Linked DNA regions of Homo sapiens: all the other regions are linked to region 3. The links come from fine-mapping of genetic effects on gene expression. A gene starts in region 3. Each other region holds a variant in brackets. All regions are shown on one strand. Distances are between the middles of the regions.

What was found. PIP is the estimated chance that this variant, and not a neighbour inherited with it, causes the effect.
Region 1: its variant is the best candidate, but not a certain one, in a credible set for the expression of RFFL in whole blood (INTERVAL, PIP 0.87).
Region 2: its variant is the best candidate, but not a certain one, in a credible set for the expression of RFFL in whole blood (TOPMed, PIP 0.86).

What each region holds. Positions count from the first base shown.
Region 1 is chr17:35,438,897-35,446,634 of GRCh38, reverse strand. SLFN13 (schlafen family member 13) reads left to right here. Exons shown (of 6, transcript NM_144682.6): 3 at 942-2,020; 4 at 2,715-2,846; 5 at 4,349-5,072; 6 at 5,269-7,738. The coding sequence starts at 955. The coding sequence ends at 6,040. Among named protein-coding and RNA genes, the nearest start is that of SLFN13, 6.0 kb to the left of the region's middle. The variant C/T (reference allele first, on the strand shown) is at 4,615.
Region 2 is chr17:35,016,715-35,024,452 of GRCh38, reverse strand. RFFL (ring finger and FYVE like domain containing E3 ubiquitin protein ligase) reads left to right here. Exons shown (of 7, transcript NM_001017368.2): 3 at 2,672-3,082; 4 at 6,847-6,930. All of the region lies in intron 5 of RAD51L3-RFFL (RAD51L3-RFFL readthrough), which reads left to right. Among named protein-coding and RNA genes, the nearest start is that of LIG3, 40 kb to the right of the region's middle. The variant G/T (reference allele first, on the strand shown) is at 3,943.
Region 3 is chr17:35,059,246-35,066,983 of GRCh38, reverse strand. RFFL (ring finger and FYVE like domain containing E3 ubiquitin protein ligase) reads left to right here and starts at 3,277. Exons shown (of 7, transcript NM_001017368.2): 1 at 3,277-3,408. The region is part of intron 5 of RAD51L3-RFFL (RAD51L3-RFFL readthrough); the gene reads left to right. RefSeq lists enhancers at 3,096-3,195, 2,645-3,440, 2,527-3,726 and a silencer at 3,436-3,505.

The DNA.
Region 1 (7,738 bases), 380 kb before region 3:
TTTGCTGAACACCTGTGAACCAAAGCATAGTTTTAAATGCTTGTTGTAAACTATCTGAGTTAATCTTCATAATAACAGTCACAGGTGGCTGCACCATGTTTTATAGTAAGAAAATAGAGTTAGAAAGAGTAAATATCTAGACTAATATAACAGTACTAAATGGCAGAACTGGAATTCAAGCCATCTTCATTGACTCTGTTCTCCAAGACCTTAGCCCCTGGTTTATTGCCTCCTGATGCCCATTTCCCAGGTGTCTGAAGAGCATTTTTCAAAGTCACAGTTAACCTTAATTTTACTAAACTTAGGTTTAGTAACACTTTCCAGTCATTACCTAGCTGTATCTGTCAGCAGTATTAGACATCTTAAAACCTTGGCAGGTGACTTTGTTCCAGGCTTTGTTAATACCAAATACCCTTGATTTTTCTCTTACTTCTTTGATTTTTCATACTCAGACTTTTCTACAGTCTCCTTTTCAATGTGGTCTTCTTTTACTTATCTTCTAAAGTTGATGTTCATGGAGAATCTGTTCCAAACCTAGATGTTCTCATGCCATGGTACACATGCCCCTCAGCTGATCCACTACTTCTGTGTTTCAATGCTAATGATTTCACCTGGCCAGTTCTAGTGCATCTTTTAAGTCTTGGCCTAAATGGAACCTACTCCTGGAAGTCTTATGGAACCATGGTCTCCAGATTCGTTCAGATACCCTATTCAATGTGTTTTCCCTCTTAGAGCCCATGTCACAGATGATGGTAAAGGCTAATTTCATTAGTTCCCTTCCCTGCCAGCCAGTCAGCTCCTAAAGAGACTATACCTGTCTTTCTTGCTATTGTCTTATCCCAGCACATATTAGACACGTTTTAAATATTTTCTAATAAATGAATTGCAGGCCTGTAACAATTTTTTAATCAAAAATGAAACAAATATTCTAATACTTTAAGGTGCAAGTTCAACATGGAGGCAAATCACTGCTCCCTGGGTGTGTATCCATCTTACCCAGACCTGGTCATCGATGTCGGAGAAGTGACTCTGGGAGAAGAAAACAGAAAAAAGCTACAGAAAACTCAGAGAGACCAAGAGAGGGCGAGAGTTATACGGGCCGCGTGTGCTTTATTAAACTCAGGAGGAGGAGTGATTCAGATGGAAATGGCCAACAGGGATGAGCGTCCCACAGAGATGGGACTGGATTTAGAAGAATCCTTGAGAAAGCTTATTCAGTATCCATATTTGCAGGCTTTCTTTGAGACTAAGCAACACGGAAGGTGTTTTTATATTTTTGTTAAATCTTGGAGTGGTGATCCTTTCCTTAAAGATGGTTCTTTCAATTCCCGCATTTGCAGCCTTAGTTCTTCATTATACTGTAGATCTGGCACCTCTGTGCTTCACATGAATTCAAGACAGGCATTCGATTTCCTGAAGACCAAGGAAAGACAGTCCAAATATAATCTGATTAATGAAGGGTCTCCACCTAGTAAAATTATGAAAGCTGTATACCAGAACATATCTGAGTCAAATCCTGCATATGAAGTTTTCCAAACTGACACTATTGAATATGGTGAAATCCTATCTTTTCCTGAGTCTCCATCCATAGAGTTTAAACAGTTCTCTACAAAACATATCCAACAATATGTAGAAAATATAATTCCAGAGTACATCTCTGCATTTGCAAACACTGAGGGAGGCTATCTTTTTATTGGAGTGGATGATAAGAGTAGGAAAGTCCTGGGATGTGCCAAAGAACAGGTTGACCCTGACTCTTTGAAAAATGTAATTGCAAGAGCAATTTCTAAGTTGCCCATTGTTCATTTTTGCTCTTCAAAACCTCGGGTAGAGTACAGCACCAAAATCGTAGAAGTGTTTTGTGGGAAAGAGTTGTATGGCTATCTCTGTGTGATTAAAGTGAAGGCATTCTGTTGTGTGGTGTTCTCGGAAGCTCCCAAGTCATGGATGGTGAGGGAGAAGTACATCCGCCCCTTGACAACTGAGGAATGGGTAGAGAAAATGATGGACGCAGATCCAGGTAAGAGGGAACCAGATTCTCCCTTCCTGACCTTTCTACCTCTTCCCCAATACCACTTCCTTCTTTATTCTCTAAGCTTGACCTTCTCACACCCACTGAAATTTACTTTCTCTAAATCTCCATGCTTTTCATAGATGGGAAGTTTTATTGGGTGAGAAAAAGCCAAAATGAGATATTTTGTGAATGGTGATTTCCCACAAAAGAAGAAGCAAAGGAAAAACCTTGGAAATTGGTTCCTTTAATAAAACCATTGAATTGGAATCTGTTGGAGCCTCATAATAGTGATTAGCTTGTACCTCAGATTAGCATAAAATCAACTCTGGGAGACAAGAGCTAGTGTTGGTTGAGGTTTGTTTAAGTTGAGGTTAGTGGAGGTGCGTGCACAGGGATATAAAAACCTGATGATTATAACTTAAAGAGAGTTTTTTTCCACTGCAATTCAAGCAAAGAACTATTCAAACATGGAAGAGGGGGCATTATATTGCATGGGGAAACACCATTCAAGGATCAGAAAAAGGGCTTTTAATGATGAATCTTTGGGAACCTGGACATAGAGTCAAGAAAGGGTAAAGCATCTGACTTTGTGGCCTGACTTGTACCATGTTAGATGAAATTTAGACACAGCCTTGTACAGCCTATTCCAATAGCGAGACATGAAATCATATAGTGTAAATTAAAATGTTCTTTCTTTCAGAGTTTCCTCCAGACTTTGCTGAGGCCTTTGAGTCTCAGTTGAGTCTATCTGACAGTCCTTCACTTTGCAGACCAGTGTATTCTAAGAAAGGTCTGGAACACAAAGCTGATCTACAACAACATTTATTTCCAGGTACTGACTGCCAGTTTTTACATCAGGAGAGAAGGAAGTCATTTAATACATTTCGTGGAAAACAAATCCATGAAAGATTGTGTCCTGCAGATCCAGGTGTACACAGTGACAATGCCACAAGCCTCTTGGGGATGAGTTTCAGGTGCCTTTAGAAATCATCTGGCCCATTGGTTGCCACATCTGGCTGATTATTAGAAATGCCATGGAAGGTAGTTAAACATGCAGATCTCCAGGCCCACACCAAGAACTTATGAACGCTTAATTTCCAGGGGAAAGGCCTAGCCATATGCATTTGGGCAAGCTTCCCAAATTATTCTGATGCCCTGCTGGGTTTGGAAACCAGTGATCTAGTACAACTACAAGGGGAACAATGGAATAACTAGCCACTTCTGGTCTACTTTTCAAGGATGGAGGAATTATGTCTGTAAAAGGAATAAAAACATTCACCTGGTAGAATATAAGAATATAGAAAAACCACAAATAATTTCTCTTTGGAAGAGGCTAGAGGGAACGACTCGCTAATGCTTCAAAGGTGGCACCAAATAATAATTCAAGCCCATAGACAATGTTATGTAACCCCTCTCCCTGCTGCCCAAACATTTTTTAGCAAGGTTTTTTTCTCGGAGTTCCTACTTACAAAATGAAACCTAGATTTTTCAAGGAGGGAAATGGCTTAACTTCATACATTGAACATATTAAGTATGAGATTTGACAAAAGAATATGATACACAAATATCCTACGTATGTCCAAACATTTATGAAGGGCAAGGTAATTCATATATTAGGCCTTCCTTAGGTCTGTTTACCACCAAATAGTTTCTTTACTTACCTGAGAGCTTTATAGTCATTAGCTTATCAGAAAAGTTTTTAAACATTCCACATTAAGAATCCAAGGTGCAAGAGTAATTGAATACATGGCTTTCACTTTCTCAGGCTCAGTAAATTGCATTTCAGTTGACATGCTCCACTGTCCATGAGATACATAGAAGGGTGACATCATTCATTTTACCAGATTTGTAGGTTGTGGGTTAAAGAGATATGCACCAGGCAAGGCGTGGTGGCTCATGCCTGTAATCCCAGCACTTTGGGAGGCCGAGGCGGGCAGATCATGAGGTCAGGAGATCGAGACCATCCTGGCCAACATGGGGAAACCCTGTCTCTACTAAAAATACAAAAAAATAGCCGGGCGTGGTGGCAGGAGCCTGTAGTCCCAGCTACTTGGGAGGCTGAGGCAGGAGAATGGCCTGAACCTGGGAGGCAGAGCTTGCAGTGAGCCAAGATCGGGCCACTGCACTCCAGCCTGGGCGACAGAGCGAGACTCCGTCTCAAAAACAGACAGACAGACAAACAAACAAACAAAAAACCAGAGATGCACCAGAAGGAATTTCTGTTAAATTGTACAATTCTTTGGGGGCTTTCCTCTGTCTTTTAAATGTAACATGTGATTCATACAAAATCACATAAACACAGTGAAAACATCTTTCTATTTTCTTCCTGTCTAGTTCCACCAGGACATTTGGAATGTACTCCAGAGTCCCTCTGGAAGGAGCTGTCTTTACAGCATGAAGGACTAAAGGAGTTAATACACAAGCAAATGCGACCTTTCTCCCAGGGAATTGTGATCCTCTCTAGAAGCTGGGCTGTGGACCTGAACTTGCAGGAGAAGCCAGGAGTCATCTGTGATGCTCTGCTGATAGCACAGAACAGCACCCCCATTCTCTACACCATTCTCAGGGAGCAGGATGCAGAGGGCCAGGACTACTGCACT[C/T]GCACCGCCTTTACTTTGAAGCAGAAGCTAGTGAACATGGGGGGCTACACCGGGAAGGTGTGTGTCAGGGCCAAGGTCCTCTGCCTGAGTCCTGAGAGCAGCGCAGAGGCCTTGGAGGCTGCAGTGTCTCCGATGGATTACCCTGCGTCCTATAGCCTTGCAGGCACCCAGCACATGGAAGCCCTGCTGCAGTCCCTCGTGATTGTCTTACTCGGCTTCAGGTCTCTCTTGAGTGACCAGCTCGGCTGTGAGGTTTTAAATCTGCTCACAGCCCAGCAGTATGAGATATTCTCCAGAAGCCTCCGCAAGAACAGAGAGTTGTTTGTCCACGGCTTACCTGGCTCAGGGAAGACCATCATGGCCATGAAGATCATGGAGAAGATCAGGAATGTGTTTCACTGTGAGGCACACAGAATTCTCTACGTTTGTGAAAACCAGCCTCTGAGGAACTTTATCAGGTAAGCAGTTGGATCTTACGTCTTTAAGTTTTATTTAATCTGGGTTTAATTTTTTCTGCTAAGTCACCTTCTTCCTTGAGAATTGAGTGGTAAAATGATCTGTGGCAATATACTGTGCTCGGAGGAACATGATACAATCATTTTCTCCCCTTGTTTTCTTAGAGAAAACCTGAGTGTATTCTTTTAATTTTTACAGTGATAGAAATATCTGCCGAGCAGAGACCCGGGAAACTTTCCTAAGAGAAAAATTTGAACACATTCAACACATCGTCATTGACGAAGCTCAGAATTTCCGTACTGAAGATGGGGACTGGTATAGGAAGGCAAAAACCATCACTCAGAGAGAAAAGGATTGTCCAGGAGTTCTCTGGATCTTTCTGGACTACTTTCAGACCAGTCACTTGGGTCACAGTGGCCTTCCCCCTCTCTCAGCACAGTATCCAAGAGAAGAGCTCACCAGAGTAGTTCGCAATGCAGATGAAATAGCCGAGTACATACAACAAGAAATGCAACTAATTATAGAAAATCCTCCAATTAATATCCCCCATGGGTATCTGGCAATTCTCAGTGAAGCTAAATGGGTTCCAGGTGTTCCAGGCAACACAAAGATTATTAAAAACTTTACTTTGGAGCAAATAGTGACCTATGTGGCAGACACCTGCAGGTGCTTCTTTGAAAGGGGCTATTCTCCAAAGGATGTTGCTGTGCTTGTCAGCACCGTGACAGAAGTGGAGCAGTATCAGTCTAAGCTCTTGAAAGCAATGAGGAAGAAAATGGTGGTGCAGCTCAGTGATGCATGTGATATGTTGGGTGTGCACATTGTGTTGGACAGTGTCCGGCGATTCTCAGGCCTGGAAAGGAGCATAGTGTTTGGGATCCATCCAAGGACAGCTGACCCAGCTATCTTACCCAATATTCTGATCTGTCTGGCTTCCAGGGCAAAACAGCACCTATATATTTTTCTGTGAAGTGACTATTAGGAAGAACTCCAAACCAAAATACTGTGTAAATGTCTATGGGTGACAGTCTGCTGATGGTAGAAACCTTTCTTTTTAGTTCACAAGTCAGTTAGAGATTTGGACAGAGCTGACACAAAGAGTTTGGAGCTCCCCCATTTCTGGCTCTCCTTTCAGGGGTTCCTCCCCCAACTCTTTTCAGCAGTGGTGGCTGCCCCCCATTCTGACCCCTGACTCTTGCAGCCAGAAAGATGGTGGTTTTCTAAAGGAACTTTAGCTGTGCTGCACAATGCAGACCTGTGTCTTGCTCTCTGGGTAAAAGCCATAAAAATAAGAAACTCAGCCTGTGGCCTTTCTTCCAAGGCTGGAGTTCTCGAGTTCTTTTATGTGACTTCGTGTAGTTTGTTGCTTTAAAAAATTTGTCCAGAATTGTTTTCTGCAGAAGCATGGTCTGTTAGGAGCTTACAGGCCATAGGAGAAGCAGTTGTTTCCTGAATTTATCTTTGCTGTATTCATTTAGGGCTTGGGAGAGTCCCAAGATAATTCAGTCACTGTCAGATTAATCATTTCGGCAGAACAAACAATATTGTTATGATTATTTAATCCTTAAAATTGTGATCTCCAGAGTTTGTTATCAGAATAACCCAGACCAAGGCTTAATTGTAATAGTGAACATTAATGGTACCTTTACAGAGAAATTATAGGCCAAGAGAAAATGCTGGCTTTCAGTAGAAGTTAATATTAGAAACCCAAATCTGGTTCTGAAAGTGTGTATCAGATGTACGGTGAACAAACTTGGGAAAGATTTTCTTTAAAAATCAATGAGCGTTGGCCAGGCACGGTGGCTCACACCTGTAATCCCAGCTGTTTGGGAGGCTGAGGCAGGTGGATCACCTGAGGTCAGGAGTTCAAGACCAGCCTGGCCAACATGGAGAAACCCCATCTCTACTAAAAATACAAAAATTAGCAGGGCATGGTGGTGCATGCCTGTATCCCAGCTACTTGGGAGGCTGAAGCATGAGAATCACTTGAATCCTGGAGGCAGAGGTTGCAGTGAGCTGAGATCATGTCACTGTACTCCAGCCTGGGCAACAGAGTGAGACTGTCTCAAAAAGAAGAAGAAGAAAAAAAATGCAGTGAGTTTATGTTGTTACATTGTAACATCTCAGCGTAGCTGTATGCATTACTCTATAGCATAACTACTTAAGTTTTATGTCATTCTTGAACTGTGATTTTTTTTTCTATTTGCTTTCATAGTTTGGTGGGCCATTGTTATGGACTGAATGTTTGTGTCCCATCCTCACCCCTAAATTCCCATGTTGAAGCCCCAACCTTCACTGTGGAGCTGGGGCTGCTAAGGAAGTAATTAAGGTTACACGAAGTCACAGTGGAGAATCTGATCTGCTAAGACTGGTGTCCTTATAGGGAGAGACCCCAGAGAGCTTGTTCCCTTCCTCCCTGTGCACACAAACAAGAGGGCATGGGAGCACACAGAGAGATGGCAGCCACCTACAAGCCAAGAGGAGAAGCCTCACAATGAACCCCCCCCCCCACCCTGCTGGCACCTATGTCTTCGACTTCCAGCCCCCAGACTGTGAGAAATAAATTTCTGTTGGTTCAGCCATCCAGTCTCTAGTGTTTTGTTATTGCAGCCTGAGAACACAGCTGTATGATCATTCATCAAACTAAAAACACTGATACTTAACAATG
Region 2 (7,738 bases), 43 kb after region 3:
CCAGCCTCTTTAGTTGGACCAGTTGGAGGATGAGGTTATGCTTGGAGCCATGGAAGTGATATTCAGATCTCAGAGTGTTAAGAGAGGACTGGGTCTTAGGTGCTGGTAAGGGGAAAGAAAAAGGTAACCGTGTTACCTTTTCTGGAGCATCCACTTTGTGCTAAGGTTTTATATACATTCTCTCATGTAATACTTCCCATATTCCAGGGAATAGGGTGGGAGGGAGTAGGAGCAAGGGAAGGGCAGTTGGCAAACGGGAGCCAGCAGAACCCTGCACACGGCATCCTTGAAGGGTGGTGTCGGCCTGAGGCGCCACGGCCAGTTCTGTGATGCTGGATATCTCAGTACACCCTGGGCATTTCTGCAGGCATGTTGGTTGCCTCCACTAATTCATCTTTCATGCTACCTGGTTACTGAGTTGTTTTGAACCATTCGGCAGAATTTATACATAAGTGTGTCCTTTGCTCATTCTGCCTGCATTTGTTGACAGCCCTTTTTTCCTTTCTTCTTGTTTTCTTCTGCCACTGCAAACTGGGGTTTTAGCCTCAAGCCCTATCCTGTTCCTGTAGGGTGTGTTTCAGATGCCAGCTTATTTCAGAGTTCCCTGTGAGCCAGCGGGTGCATAGAAGCTAGGTTGTTGTCTGCATTCTGATCTTGCATCCAGCAAGCCACACACATTTGAAGAAAGAATAGAGAGTTGTTTGGATCTGGCTGATTGAGCAACGCAGGCTTTATAATTGTGTCAAGCTAGGTCTTGTCAGACTGCATCGACTTAAGTAATATTCCATGTCAGGCCCACAGGTTTATGGCATTGAAGCCTCTTTGTTTCAGTCTCAGTCATCCTAAACAGACTTCATTTCCCAATAGAAAAGCTTTAGATGTGAATGAACCCCAAATACCTGAAAACATCCATTTTCTGCCTGCATGGCTACTGGTCCCAGAACCGTTACAATGCTAGTGCAGCCATGCATCCTTTTAAGTCCATCTCTGAACAGTATTGTTTGGTTATAACTGTATGGAGAATTAGGGAGCTTGATATATGTCCCTTTGCAATGCCTTCTAAGTCTTAATAGCCAAAACTGGGTGGTAAATATTATTTCCTTTTCCCTTTACTATGTGAATGATACTTAGACAAAACTTATATAACTATCTTAACTATGCAGACATTTACTTCAGCCCAGAGTGTCTGTGATCTTGACTATGAGAATCTTGTCTCTTGAGCTTTCTTTTTTAGCTTGAATATCTTTCTATATTTCGAAAAGATGGACCAGAAATATTTAAGTTACTACTTAAGTCAACACAGGATGAAAAGTTTTTAACTTCTTTAAAGGATTAATGAGGGTGCCCTCCAGGCCAATCCCAGTGTGCTCAGGAATTACCTCTCTTGTTGGGGATGTGACATGCTCTTGGCCAGAACAGAGCTCAGCCGGATGTCACTGTGCTCACTCAGCCTGTGGGGTGAGAGGCCGAGGATTGCTTCCTGTGGGCTGAGTAAGCCTTCCTGTGTTGTCAGCGACTGCCAGACTAGCTGCTGCCAGGCAGTACCAGCTTGCCCATCAGGCGCTCTTGTTGCCTAACTGAGACACTCTGTGCTTTCAGGAACGAGAGTACCCTGATGTCCAGACAGCCTCCCGTTGCTGTCTAAATATTTGTCTTGGATATGCTTGTAAGCACCACTGGGTTCCCAGCACTCTGAGTGGGCCTTCCTGGAGTGGGGAGCCTGTGTCGATGGAGCAGTGGGTGGGGAATTTGGAGATGGAAGCCAGGCCCTTGACTCAGAACTGCTCTGTACTTGAATGGAACTGAGCTATGCAGTATGGCCTGGTGGAAAGAATGTGATCATGGGCATTAGCCTCCAACAGACCTTGAGTGTGAATACCCGCTCTCCTGTTTATTGCCTGACCTTGAATACAACAGTTGATCTCCCTAAGCCTCGGTTGCTTTGTCTGTGAATCAGGGAAGAACACTAATACCTACTTTGCAATGTCGCTTTGAGAATTAAATGACAAGCTAGCATATAGAAGCACCTCAATAAATTAATATTAATTGTAACAACCACCACCACCATAACCTTCATGCAGAAATAATTACAGTTTAGGATTTGAATCCTGGCTGTCACCGTTAGGTAATATTTCCTAGCTATAATAAAACAGCTTACACTTGTTGAGGACTCATTTTGTGTTAGATATGCTAAATGGGTTCTCTCTTAATCTTCACAACAACCCCATGAGGTAGATACTGTTATCACCCCCATTTTACAGATGTGGAAACTGAGCACCAGAGAGGCTAAATTACACACCCAAGGTGATACTGCAAGAAATAAGGGAGGGAGGCTTAATAAAAATGCAGAGCTTTTTGATTCTTATGCTGGTAGTCTTAATTAATACCTCAGGTGCTTCAGGAGTAAATAAAGTAAGCCTCAAATTAAATAATAAATGTGAAGTGTCCTGTACATGGATATACACAATACATAGTGGAGGTCTTCCACCCGAGTGGCTTTTAATCTAAAATCTGAAAGTGGCTTGCACCCTTAGATATATGAGAGAGCTTAGTAAAAGTAAGAGTGACTGGAGGAGATCCTGCTGGGCTTGGCAGCTCTGAAGCTCCCATCGCACTCTCTGTCTTGTTCTCTCAATCTGACATGGTTTCCTGTGTCTTTTGCTCTAAGCAGCAGACCTGCTTGGACTGTAAGAAAAATTTTTGCATGACCTGTTCGAGCCAAGTAGGGAATGGGCCCCGCCTCTGCCTTCTCTGCCAACGGTTTCGAGCTACAGCCTTTCAGCGAGAGGAGCTCATGAAGATGAAGGTGAAGGACTTGAGGGACTATCTCAGCCTCCATGACATCTCTACCGAAATGTGCCGGGAGAAAGAAGAGCTGGTGCTCTTGGTCCTTGGCCAGCAGCCTGTAATCTCCCAGGAGGACAGGACTCGTGCCTCCACCTTGTCCCCAGACTTTCCTGAGCAGCAGGCCTTCCTGACCCAGCCTCACTCCAGCATGGTTCCACCTACCTCACCCAACCTCCCCTCTTCATCTGCACAAGCCACCTCTGTTCCCCCAGCCCAGGTTCAGGAGAATCAGCAGGTAAGGGCCCATTTGTAGTCTCTGCCAGTCTGTGCCAGTTTGAGGGCTCATTTTCATTTTCCTCTCCTGCCTTTGTTGTGAGAATGGGGTATAAGGCTAAGTGTCTTGATTATGTGAAGCCTTTCTGACTACTGGTGCACCAAGTGTTTTCTGGGTATCAGACTCATGTTTTGGCTTTCTTCAGAGGTGATATGCACAGTACCAATTTTTTTGTTTGTTTTTTGTTTTTAATACACACATATCCTAGTTAGACATTTTTTAAAGTTCATCATTCCAGAAATATTTTGAGAAAAGTAACCATTAAGCCATCAAATTTAGTTCTGTTCCAATTTGTCTTTCAACTTAACTCCTTTGTTGCAGTCTTCATTGGCTGGATTGGAAACTTAGTTCCTTAGTAACCATCACAAGGAATATAGGAAAGCAAAGGGCTATATGGAGGCAAGGGAGGGTGGGGAAACAGACAAAGACACTGCTTCTCTTACCAGTCACTGGCTGGAAGCAGGAGTAGTTGGCACGCTGTACTTGCATGCTGCTTCTTCATTATCCTGGGGGGCTTGGAAGTGGTAAGCTAAGAGCAGCACATCAACTGAATCATGACCCAGGTCTGGGGAGTATAGAAATGAGTAATAAACTGTCTCTGTCCTCAAAAAGCCCCCAGAAGAGGGAAGGTAGACAGGTAGACCAACTAACTACTGGATTAGAGTGAGGCCAGTGGACATAATTGTTGTATAAGAAGTGATGATGTTGCATAAGTGCCTTAAGTGACTCTGTTATTTATAGCAGCGGCCCCTAACCTTTTTGGCACCAAGGACTCGTTTTGTGGAAGACAATTTTTCCACAGACTGGGGTGCGTTGGTTTT[G/T]GGATGAAACTATTCTACCCAGATCATCAGGCATTAGTTAGATTTTCATAAGGAGCATGCATCCTAGATCCCTCGCATGCGCAGTTCACAACAGAGTTCACATTCCTATGAGAATCTAATGCCACCGCTGATCTGACAGGAGGCAAAGCTCAGGCAGTAATGCTTACTTGCCAGCCACTCACCTCCTGCTGTGCATCCGGGTTCCCAACAAGCCATGGACCAGTACCAGTCTGTGGCCCAGGGGTTGGGGACCCTTGATCTATAGGGCTTGGGCAATATGGGGGAATTAGGAACTACAAGATCCAATTTCCACATCCACTTTTGTCACTGACTTCTTGATCCCCTTGGGCAAATGTTGAGCCTACAACAATGAAATGAGGTTAGTAATCACAGACCACTTTTGATCTTGCCAGGATGTTGAGAGACCTGAATGCGTGATACCATGTCTAAAAGAGCTCTGAGTTACTTAGAGCTGGTATAGTGCTAGTGCTGTTGGTTCCCACACATGATGTGGATGGCTGCTGCCACTTGTTTATGATCACCTCCTTTGCCAGGACTGGGCCCCCTGATTCAGCTCTTGACAACCACTGAGGCATAAAGGCCAATGTGATAGCATAATTTAACTGCAGTAAAATCATTTAACTCCCTTTTTGGCCTGAACATGTTTTTCTCCGCAGCTGGACTTTAATTCTTTCCTAAGCTCTGACTCTTGGTCTGCTAGACAGATTTAAACTCCTGCTATATATTCTTCCCTTTGCTTGTGTTTTTTTTTTTTCCACTCTATGTATAAGGAGCCAGGAGAAGAACTTGAGGAATTCTTTTTCTGTAAAGAACCTTGGCTGGGCGTGGTGGTTCATGCCTGGTAATCCCAGCACTTTGGGAGGCTGAGGCAGGCGGATCATTTGAGCCCAGGCATTTGAGACTAGCCTGGCAACATGGCAAAAACCTGTCTCTACAAAAAATACAAAAATTAGCTGGGCGTGGTGGTGGGTGCCTGTAGCTACTCAAGAGGCTGAGGTGGGAGGATCATTTAAGCCTGGGAGGTCGAGGCTGCAGTGAACCATGATCATGCCACCACACTCCAGCCTGGGCAACAGAGTGAGATCCTGTCTCAGAAAACAAAAACAAAAAACCAAGCAAACTTTTCAGGTAGATTTTTCAATGAAAGATGATAAGCTTCCTGTCATTAACCAGAAATTTCCAGATTGCACCTAAAGGTCACCCTACATACAAGATCTAAGTGGGTACTTTTCCTCTGAGATTTTCAAGAGACCTTAGTGTCTGCTTACATCCCCTGTTCTGGTGAGAGCTGCACTTTGCAAGCAGGAAAAACAGGCATGGAAGAATTAAGTAACTTACGCAGTACTGTCTGACAAGTTCATAAGTGAGCTGCACCTAGAATGTAAATTTCCTTATAATACTTGCTCAACCAGAGTTCTCTCTTTCACCTTTAGTGCCCTAGCAATCAATAGTTGCTAGGCAAGGAAGTATATACAATAAGCACAACTGTGGACAGGTACTAGTTTTGGATTTTTATTTAGCCAGTGGGCAAACTGGAAAGACAAGAGCATGCTTTGCAGCATGAGGTCGTTTCTCTTTCTAGGAAACAGGACATCTGAAAGATAGCTACTTAGGAACAGGTTAGGCTCTGAAGGATTCCAGGGTAATTCCAAGGTAACACTACCTGAGAGACCAGTGAGGATCTACAGTAAGCTAAGAGAAAACGTTGTTGATGAAGACATTGATTTGGATCCATCCCCATACATGTGTACTATGCATTTGATCTTGCCTTGATTTGGCATTTTGTTACTTCTGCTTTTCATTTCCATTGCAGTTGGTTGCCTCTTCTTGATTAGCTCCATATTATGAATCCTAATGTGGGGTGAGTGGCTGGGGTCGGTGGGTGTCTTTGGTTTCCCAGATTGTCCCTTCACTGGCATCCCCAGAATCTGGTGGAAAAGGCCTGTGAGCTCAGACACCTCTTTGCTCTGAGCTCACAGCAGGCCCTTTGCCTGCAGGGAGCAGTGGGCGAAGAGGATCTACTTAAGGGGTTTGTGGCTTAAATGGTGATGGAATTAGGAGGCTAACAGTTCTGCCTACTCTTTGGCCAAACCTCCTAAAAGAGTACTCAGGAGGAACCTTTTGAGAAGTGAGAATTCTAAGCATAATGAAATTCCGTAAGCATAGGCAGTGTTTTATATAGTGTTAGGCTAATAGATTCTTAGATACATTAAAATACTCTTTGACTAGGTCTGGACATAGCACTTAATAATAGTGTGCTCAACATGGGGAGCACATTTCCAGAATGTGAGAGTAGTTACTAGGCAGAAAAGAAAGAGACTAGGGTGGTGATGATCTGGAAACTTTGTCCCATCAGTGTCAGATAAGGAAGCCAGGGAGATTTAGTGTGAAGGAGGGGAAAACATGGTATAAACAGTTTGGGAAAAACAAAAAACAAACAAACAAAAACCCCAGGAGACTATGGTCTGAGGAGCAGAACCAGGGATAGGGATGGCAATTTTGGATCAGTGTCAAGAAAAACCTTGATGCCAGATAGAGAGCAGTCCAGCAGTGGAATGGACACAATGACCTTCCCTTCACCTGTGGTGCTCAAGCTGAGATTAAATTGATGATGAGTTGTGGCTACTGCCATCCTGGTGTGTGCAGAATTAATGCAGTTTTGTTCTAGAGGGCAGCTTTGTCTATTGAAATGTATTTTTGTTGTTTCTCTGCTTGACAAAGTTGGTATGAGAGAGCAGGCTTTTGTAATGATGCTGTAAGAGGCTCCGGATTTCTGGGCATGATGGGAGTACATTCTGGACATTGTGTGAGTTGAAAAGAGGCCCATGCTATGCAGATCTCTGGGACATCTCTAGATGTGATGTTACTTTTCTCTTCCCACAGGCCAATGGCCATGTGTCTCAGGATCAAGAGGAACCCGTCTACCTGGAGAGCGTGGCCAGAGTACCTGCTGAGGATGAGACCCAGGTGGGGCCTCTGCTTGGGTCTGTGTCTTCACCTTTCCTCTTTCACTGGTGTTCTTCGGAACCTCTTAGCAGAGTCGAGTGGAGAGAGAATAAATGTGTGATGATAGTGCTTCCGAAATTATATTTTTGGGGTAGGGTTTAGTGTTAGTGTTCCAGGTTAACTAGTGAAGCGGTCAGTGTATTTATAAGGAGTTGTGAGGTCACAGTGGAGACGGAGAAGCCTCATGGCCCATTGTATTTCCAGTCTCTTGACTTTCTAAGAGCTGCCGGAGGGCAGGCTTGTGGTCCTGCTGTTAAAGTCTTGTTCTTTCCTTGCTTCTAGCACACTGTAGCCATTGTCAAGGGAAGGAGGTCAGACAATTAGCCAGGCAGGGCCAGTCCAGAGCACAGACCAGGGAGCTGTGGCCAAGGTTGTGTATAGAGGAGTACTTGCCAGGGAAATGTGCCTCTTGTGGGCAAGCAGAAGTCTCCAGGGGAGAAGGGCCAGCACCATGCTGGGTTTCATGTGCGGCCATATTTAACCTCTACAGGACCCCTGTGGGGTAGGACTGCTCTCTCCCCTTAATGGAGGGGCAAACGGGCTCAGAGTGGTAAGCAACTTGCTGGATATTATTTAGCATTAACAGCAGAGGAGTCAAGATTCAAAATTAGGGTCATATGACTCAAACCAGCACTCCTTCTACTATACTTCTATCTAGTACTATATCACACTGATTGGTTGGTCTGTGTCTGTTTGCTCCTGAGCACAGAATCGTGGGTCAGGAAGAGATTCTAGTATATTTTGCAATGCAGAGCACCATGCCAGGTAC
Region 3 (7,738 bases):
AGTTTACTTCATTTTTCATGTTTAATTTCTGTGATTTATTAGATGATAAATATTTGGTTGCCATCATATTGTTTTTCTTAAATACTATGTTCTATAGTTAAAAAAAAAAAAAGGCTGTGAGGTCACTGAACACCAAGATTAGAATTTGGCAATCATTAATTATCAACAAGGTGAGACAGGCACTGATTCCTGGAAATGTGCATTTATCCATTCACCGACTTCTCAGTTAGAAAAAGGATGTGGACACAAGTAAGATTAATTTTGTTAAAAACAAGAAATGTGCAGTATCATTTAGGATGCTGGGGGTAGGGAAGTAGATAAAAGGGAGATGTTGAGAGGAAAGAGTGTGAAGAGAGAGTAAAGCAGTTTGTAAGTGATACAAACTTTAAAATTTTAACTGAATTTTAAACTACCAAGTCATATTTGAATATATGCTTGTTGTAAAAAAATTCATGATTTTTGGGGGGTAATTTGGATAAAGCTAAACATAGCTATTTGATCTTTATTCCCATTACAGTGCTCTCCCTGCTGTGTGCATCCTCCCAGATCTTCTGTATGTATTTGGTAATTTTCTGTGGATTTGGAAGACTACAGAATCCTGAGAAATGGATATTTTAATTTCTCTTTTGAAACCTGCTTATTGTTTATAATGTCAAGATCTATTGCAGAAAAGAAAGTAAATCTGGGATGTCAATGACATCACATATGTCTGTTCAAATGAAACAATGGGCACATACACATATGCACACTCATTAAATATCTGTTGAGACCACCCTATTAAAAAAAGCATAAATAGTTTTGGGTGTTAAGTTACTTGAGTTTTAAAATAACGTATTTTCTGTTTTTGTTGTTTTTTGTTTTGAGATGGAGTCTCCTTCTGTCGCCTGGGCTGGATTGCAGTGGCGCAATCTCGGCTCTGCAACCTCTGTCTCCTGGGTTCAAGTGATTCTCCTGCCCCAGCCTCTAGAGTAGCTGGGGTTAGAGGTGTATGCCACCATGCCTGGCTAATTTTAAAATAATGTATTGAAAGAACTTAGTCAGAAAGCCACAGTTATTATTTCTCCCATAGCCTCATATTCTCATAATTTTCATGTAACCTCATAAATCCTCAAGTGCCTGAAACCACTAGTTCAAACGAGTACCTTTTTAAGCTCTAAAATGTAATCCTCAACCTTTCCACTTTAAAAGGAAGAACTAGGATGGAGTGTGGCTATAATTTGGGGCAGTTGGTTAAAACTGTATCAGAGTCCCAAAGAGGGGAATGATAAGCTGCAGCAGCTCTGTTCACTTGCTCAATGGTGTTTCTCTTAGTCAACTTAGGAGTTCCATGCCTTTGGCCTTCAGGCTGCTCTTTATATAGTTCGTATCTGTCTCCTGGGCATAGTACTGTCTGGATTTTCTCTTTCTTTTTTTTTTTTTTTTTTTGAGACGAAGTTTTGCTCTGTTGTTGCCCAGGCTGGAGTGCAATGGCACAATCTTGGCTGACTGCAACCTCTGCCTCCCGGGTTCAAGCGATTCTCCTGCCTCAGCCTCCCGAGTAGCTGGGATTACAGGCATGTGCCACCACACCTGGCTAATTTTGTATTTTTAGTAGAGATGGGGGTTTCTCCATGTTGGTTAGGCTAGTCTTGAACTCCCGACCTCAGGTGATCCGCCCACCTCGGCCTTCCAAAGTGCTGCAATTATAGGCGTGAACCGCTGTGCCCGGCCCTCTTATTTAAAGTTCGCAAATACAGAACAGGTCAGGAGCTTTTCTAATCATTTTTTTTTTTTCTGAAGGAGGTTCCATATTTGTCTGTACCTTGAGAGTTGTTTCATACTAGAATTTGTAACTTATCATCAACTACAGAAATTTTTTTTAAAGTGTGGTTGAAGAGATAATGGTTGTCAGCTGCTATAAAGATGTGTTTATCATTCAGAAAGGACTAATTAACATGTACTATAGGGAAACTTCTTTAAACAAAGCCATTTTCTGAAAGGAAAACACTGAAGGGGAGGAAATAAAACAGGGAACATTTTATAATACCTTATCAAAGCTCAGCGTGGCTATCCTACTGGAATAATGTAATTAAGGAGAATTAAGTGAGTTGGATAAATAACTTTTTAAAACTAGCCCCTTGAATAGAAAATTAAGTAGTATAGTTTTTAAACTCAAATTCTGTCTGCACGTACATTTTAATTAACCTAACATTATTGAATGACAAGCTGAGTTGGCAGCTACATCCAGAGTTCATGCCATGTGAGACCTACCTTAAAGGATGAACGAAGCTGGGTGCAGAGGCCTCAAATGCCCTGCTAAGAAATAGCTGATGGCCTTGGGGAACTGTCATACATTTTAAGCAGGAAACAGAAGGATCTAATAGGAACTTTAGTTTCTCTCTTGTCAAATTAAAGCACACAAAAAGCAAGGACTTGATCTTTTTTTTTTTTTTTTGTATAACACCAATGTCAATTCTAGCCTGTCAGGGCAAATTCAGTAATTAATAGCTGTTGATGAGCCAGTCATTCTAGATTGATTTTTTAAATAAGCAGGCTAATAAATGAGAATTGACATAAATTTAGGGATGTCTCTTTTCAGAGCAAGTGTTAAGGTGATTTTCATAGTCTTCTGTATTCCCTATGCATCCAGTAGGTGTGATGGTAAATGATTTGGCTTTAGCATAGAGAATGTGGCAGCTGATTAAAAAAAAAAAATTCCAGTGCATCTATCTTAATGAGAGAACTTGAGTTGTCTGAAGAAATAGAGAGGTCAGAGGAGGCCTAGTGGGAAAAAAGAACAATGAGCCTGGTTAGAACTGACAAAAATTCACCCTAATGATTTGACTGGCTAATGATGACTGGGCAAGTTCCCTGAGTCCACTGACCCAGATGTTCTAATTTGTAAATGCAAAGTGACTTATTTATCAGCCTCCTGGGGAAATCTTCAGAGCTGTGAACCTGCTATGTTCAGTAATCTTGCTGGCCCCAGCCCCAGCCTGTTCTCAGATGAAATTTTAGAAACTGGCCACTGGAACTTTTTGGGTAAGGGCTCTGGAGGTGGCCAAGTTACCAGTAGTGGGGGAATGAGGTTTACCTGCCCCCAGTAATCAGCACTTGATTTAAAACAATCAGTGAGCTGCCTCTTCTTTCCTAGGTTGCAGTTGACTGCGGTTGGTTCAGGCTGAGTTGTTTGGGAAGTACAAATTTTGCCCAGCGTGAGTCAGCACTGCCCTGGGTAAACTCCCTGCTGTGTTGCAATCTTGCTTACCAAAGATACATCCCCAGGCGGCACCATTCACTTCACATGAAAGCCGCTGCTCTTGGTTCCTGAGATGATCTCATCTGAACATGGCTCCAGCGACCTCAGCCACAGGAACTAGAGACAGCTTGCTTTCTGTCGTGGCAATGTTTTGAAACTGGCAAAATCAGGTAACCTCAAACTGTTTTCTTAAGTTTCATTAGCTAGATGAAGCTGCATTAGAAACTGGGAAAATCCTGTCTTCAGAAGTGAGTCAGGTTTTTTTTTTTTTTTTTTTTTTTTTTTTTTTTGAGACGGAGTTTCACTCTTGTTGCCCAAGCTGGAGTGCAATGGTGTGATCTCGGCTCACTGCAACCTTCACCTCCCGGGTTCAAGTGATTCTCCTGCCTCAGCCTCCCAAGTAGCTGGGATTATAGATGTGCGCCACCATGCCCGGCTAATTTTGTATTTTTAGTAGAGACAGGGTTTTGCTGTGTTGGTCAGTCTGGTTTCGAACTCCCAAGCTCAGGTGATCCACCCTCCTCAGCCTCCCAAAGTGCTGGAATTATAGGCATGAGCCACGGCCCCCGGCCAGAAGTTTTCTTTCATTTGAGTTCTGGATGTGGAGTTAGGTCCAATTAAATCACTGATTATATAAATCTTAGAAAAGTAAAACGTTAGGTTTACAGCTTTATCCGTCATTTGCTCTTGTATTTTGTTTTTTTGTGTGTATCTTGTGAGAAACACTTTAGTCAAACTAAGCCATTGTTAAAGGAAAAGAAGTGAAGGCATTTGGTTGCCTTCCTAATAACTAAATATTGAGTTGTGGAGAACACTGTCTTATCAGTGAGTTTGTTCCCATATTCCTTTCTGAATTAATAGGAAGAACCTCCCTCATCTCTAATTCTACTAGGCTACTACTCTATCTCCCTCCTGCTTTTCATCGCCAAACTTTTGAGTCCTTCACCTAATCAGACTATGATATCTCTAGGTAGTCGTCACCCTCCAAATTACGTTTCTGCTCCTTATAATTCCAACAAATTGCCCACGTTCTCTTTCACCTCAGACCTTAGCATATGTAAGCGTTCTTTTACACACCTTCCCCAAGCTTAATCTGGCCAACTGGTTTCAGCCTAGAAGTCACCTCTTCCATGAAGCCTCTTCTTACTTACCAGGGTTGAGTACTCAGGAGAACCTGGTATTTACTCCAATCATAGTATGTATTGAGAATCAGGGTCTGCTTTGCTAGAATTGTATCCATGGTACGTTGCACATAGTAGGTTCTCAGTAAGGGTAGAATGAGCAAGAGCCTGTACTGTACTTTCTCAACTCTGATCCTCTCATCAACTCTTTTTTTTTTCTTCTGAGAGGAATCTTGCTCTGTCACCCAGGCTGCAGTGCAGTGGTGTGATCTTAGCTCACTGCAACCTCTGCCTTCCTGGTTCAAGCGATTCTCCTGCCTTAGCCTCCTGAGTTGCTGGGACTACAGGTACGTGCCACCACGCCCAGCTAATTTTTGTATTTTTAGTAGAGACAGTGTTTCACCATGTTGGCGAGGATGGTCTCGATCTCTTGACCTCATGGTCCACCTGCCTTGGCCTCCCAAAGTGCTGGGTTTACAGGTGTGAGCCACCGCGCCCGGCCTTGTTCATTCTTTTTATGCTCACATCTTTAAATGTGCTAAACCCTGTTGATTTTGTTGGAGTACTGTTTGATGTGTGGCTTTTCTTCATTCCCACTGTCATTGCCTTAATTTACCAGAGGTCAAAACTGGACGTTTAAAGTCAGGCTGGGCACGGTGGCTCACGCCTGTAATCCCAGCACTTTGGGAGGCCGAGGTGGGCAGATCACCTGAGGTCAGGAGTTTGAGACCAGCCTGGCTAACATGGTGAAACCCCATCTCTACTAAAAACAAAAAATTAGCTGGGCGTGGTGGCACGTGCCTATAATCCCAGTTACTCAGGATGCTGAAGCAGGAGAATCACTTGAACCCAGGAGGTGGAGGTTGCAGTGAGCGAGGATCACACCACTGCACTCCAGCCTGAGCAACAGTGAGACTCCATATCAAAAAAAAAAAAGAGTTTGAGACCATCCTGGCCAACATGGTGAAACCCTGTCTGTATTTAAAAAAAAAAAAAAAGGCACGCCACGCATGGTGGCCAGTGCCTGTGGTACCAGCTACCCAGCAGGCTGAGAAAAGAGAATTGCTTGCACCCAGGAGGTGGAGGTTTCAATGAGCTGAGATTGTGCCACTGAACTCCAGCCTAGGCACAGAAGAAGACTCCATCCCAAAAATCAATCAGTCAGCCTAAGGGCTTAAAATTTTGTGTGTGAATACTTTTAGGCACCATCAGAGAGAAGGCCTGTACTCTTCAAAGATTACGGATACCACCATTTTCTGACATCTTACACACTGAAGACTTAGCATTTTACCTGCATTGCCTCTAGGAATTTGAGTTTGTAACTCCTAGTTCAGACCCTTATCAAATGGCCACTCCTCCATAAGTCTTTCCTTGCTCCTATCTTCTCCATATTGTTGCCCAAGTTATCTTTTTAAAGTCCACATCTAATCTTTTCATTTAAGGTGCCATTTGTTCCCTGTTTTCCACTTAGCTTGACTTCTAAAAGCTTTCACAGTTGGATTCTTTCCTACATGTTGCTGTTAACCATCTCATCTCCCTCTCCCCTGGCCATTTCTCTCCTCTCCAGCTTCACTGAACTTCTCATGTTAACATTCCATGGATATACCATGTCTTTTAGGACTCTGCCTTTTCCCAATGGACTCTCCCTTCTCTAACTGGCAAGATACTCATCCCTCAGGACACTTAGTTCATATATGCATCTTCTCTGACTTCTCTGTCTTTTCTGACAGACAGCACTGTCTGTCTCTTCCACTAGACTGTTGAGTTCTTTGACTGAACTTGGTGTCCCTGGACTAGAGCTTGGCACCATCAGAGAGAGTGGCTGACGTGGATCTCCGGGCTCAAACCGTTATTCTTTGCAATATTAGAAGCTTTTTTGTTAGATGGCATGGTTTTTCATTCCTATTTGATGAACATGAGCCCATGGCTGCTTATTTTGTATGTGTTACCTGCCACCATCAAGTAATCATTCAAAGTTAATTTGAAGATTTAAAGGGTTTGCTGAGATCTAGTCCCGCAATATCACGACATTTTTATGGTGTTTTACAAAATTATTTCCCTCATATGGTTTTATTTGCGTTGGGTAGGCTTTATTTATTATCCCTATTTTACCAGTGATTATAAAGCTAGTCTGATACCAAAGCATATATACATTTAGGTAAGACTCAGAGAGAAAACATGGTTCTTACACTGCATTAAGCAGCTGGTTTGTCTCTTAATATAGTAGTTAAATATACTCTATCAGGTTCCACAGAAATGGTGCCTTTGCTCGATAGGCAAGTGCTAACGGTCTTGCCTTTTACAAGGCCACTTTATCATCAAGGTAGGAGGAGGAGGTACTCTGAACCTGCCTGACCTATGGGAAGGCCCTGGTTGTGGTTAGAGACCTTGATTGAAATTAATGGTGTGCGTACTCCAACCTCTCAGGTTTTTCTTTTATACTTCAAATATCTGGAAGTTGTGAAAACCTGCTGCCCTGGTGGAGTATCAAACCAGGCTGGTGAGTGAAAGCGGTCATCCCAAAATGGAGTAAGCTGAGTGTTAAGGGCAGAAAACCTTTTACAGTTATAGTAAGTAATTAACTTTTTAGATCACTTCACAACTTTTGGAGTGCTAAAATGCCATATTTGGGACTATGAGAAATTCCATTATAAAAAGCTGAACCATTAGAGCTAGGAAATAATCTCTGTTAGATATTGGCATATGGTGTTCAATTTTGGGTCTCTCATACTTGAGAGGATAATTAAAATGATTAAAAGGTTGAAAAACAGGTCTTATCATTATAAGTTTTAAAAAGGGGGGAAAGATTTTAGCCTAGAGAAAGAAAAGCTAAGAGATAACTTCATTATCATCTTCAAATACAAGAATAGTTTTGCCAGGGGGATTTTTATTAATTATTCTTCATGAACTTCAAAGATTTAAGAGGAAATGGTCTTAAATTGAAGGAGGAGCAATTTTGATGAATACGAGAAAGAATTTTTTGATCATCAAAGTGGGGAAATGTTTGAATGACTGCCCAAGAGAGTGTTGAATTTCTGACTGTTTCAGTTGTCTATTGTGTGACAAATTACCCGAAGACTTTTGGTGGCATAACATGACAACCATTTTATTGCCTATGATTTTGTGGGTTAGTAATTCAGGAAAGGAGGACATATTTTTTTTTGTCCCATATGATGCTGATTGAGCTGGAGGATCCAAGAAGGCTGCACATGTCTGTACCTTTGGAGCTAGCTGTTGGCTGGGATATCTTGGTTCTCTGTGAGTTCTCTTTCTTGGTCTCTCATCACTTATAAACCTATATCGAGTGGCCGAGCGCAGTGGCTCATGCCTGTAATCTCAGCACTTTGGGAGGCCGAGGTGAGTGGATCACCTGAGGTCG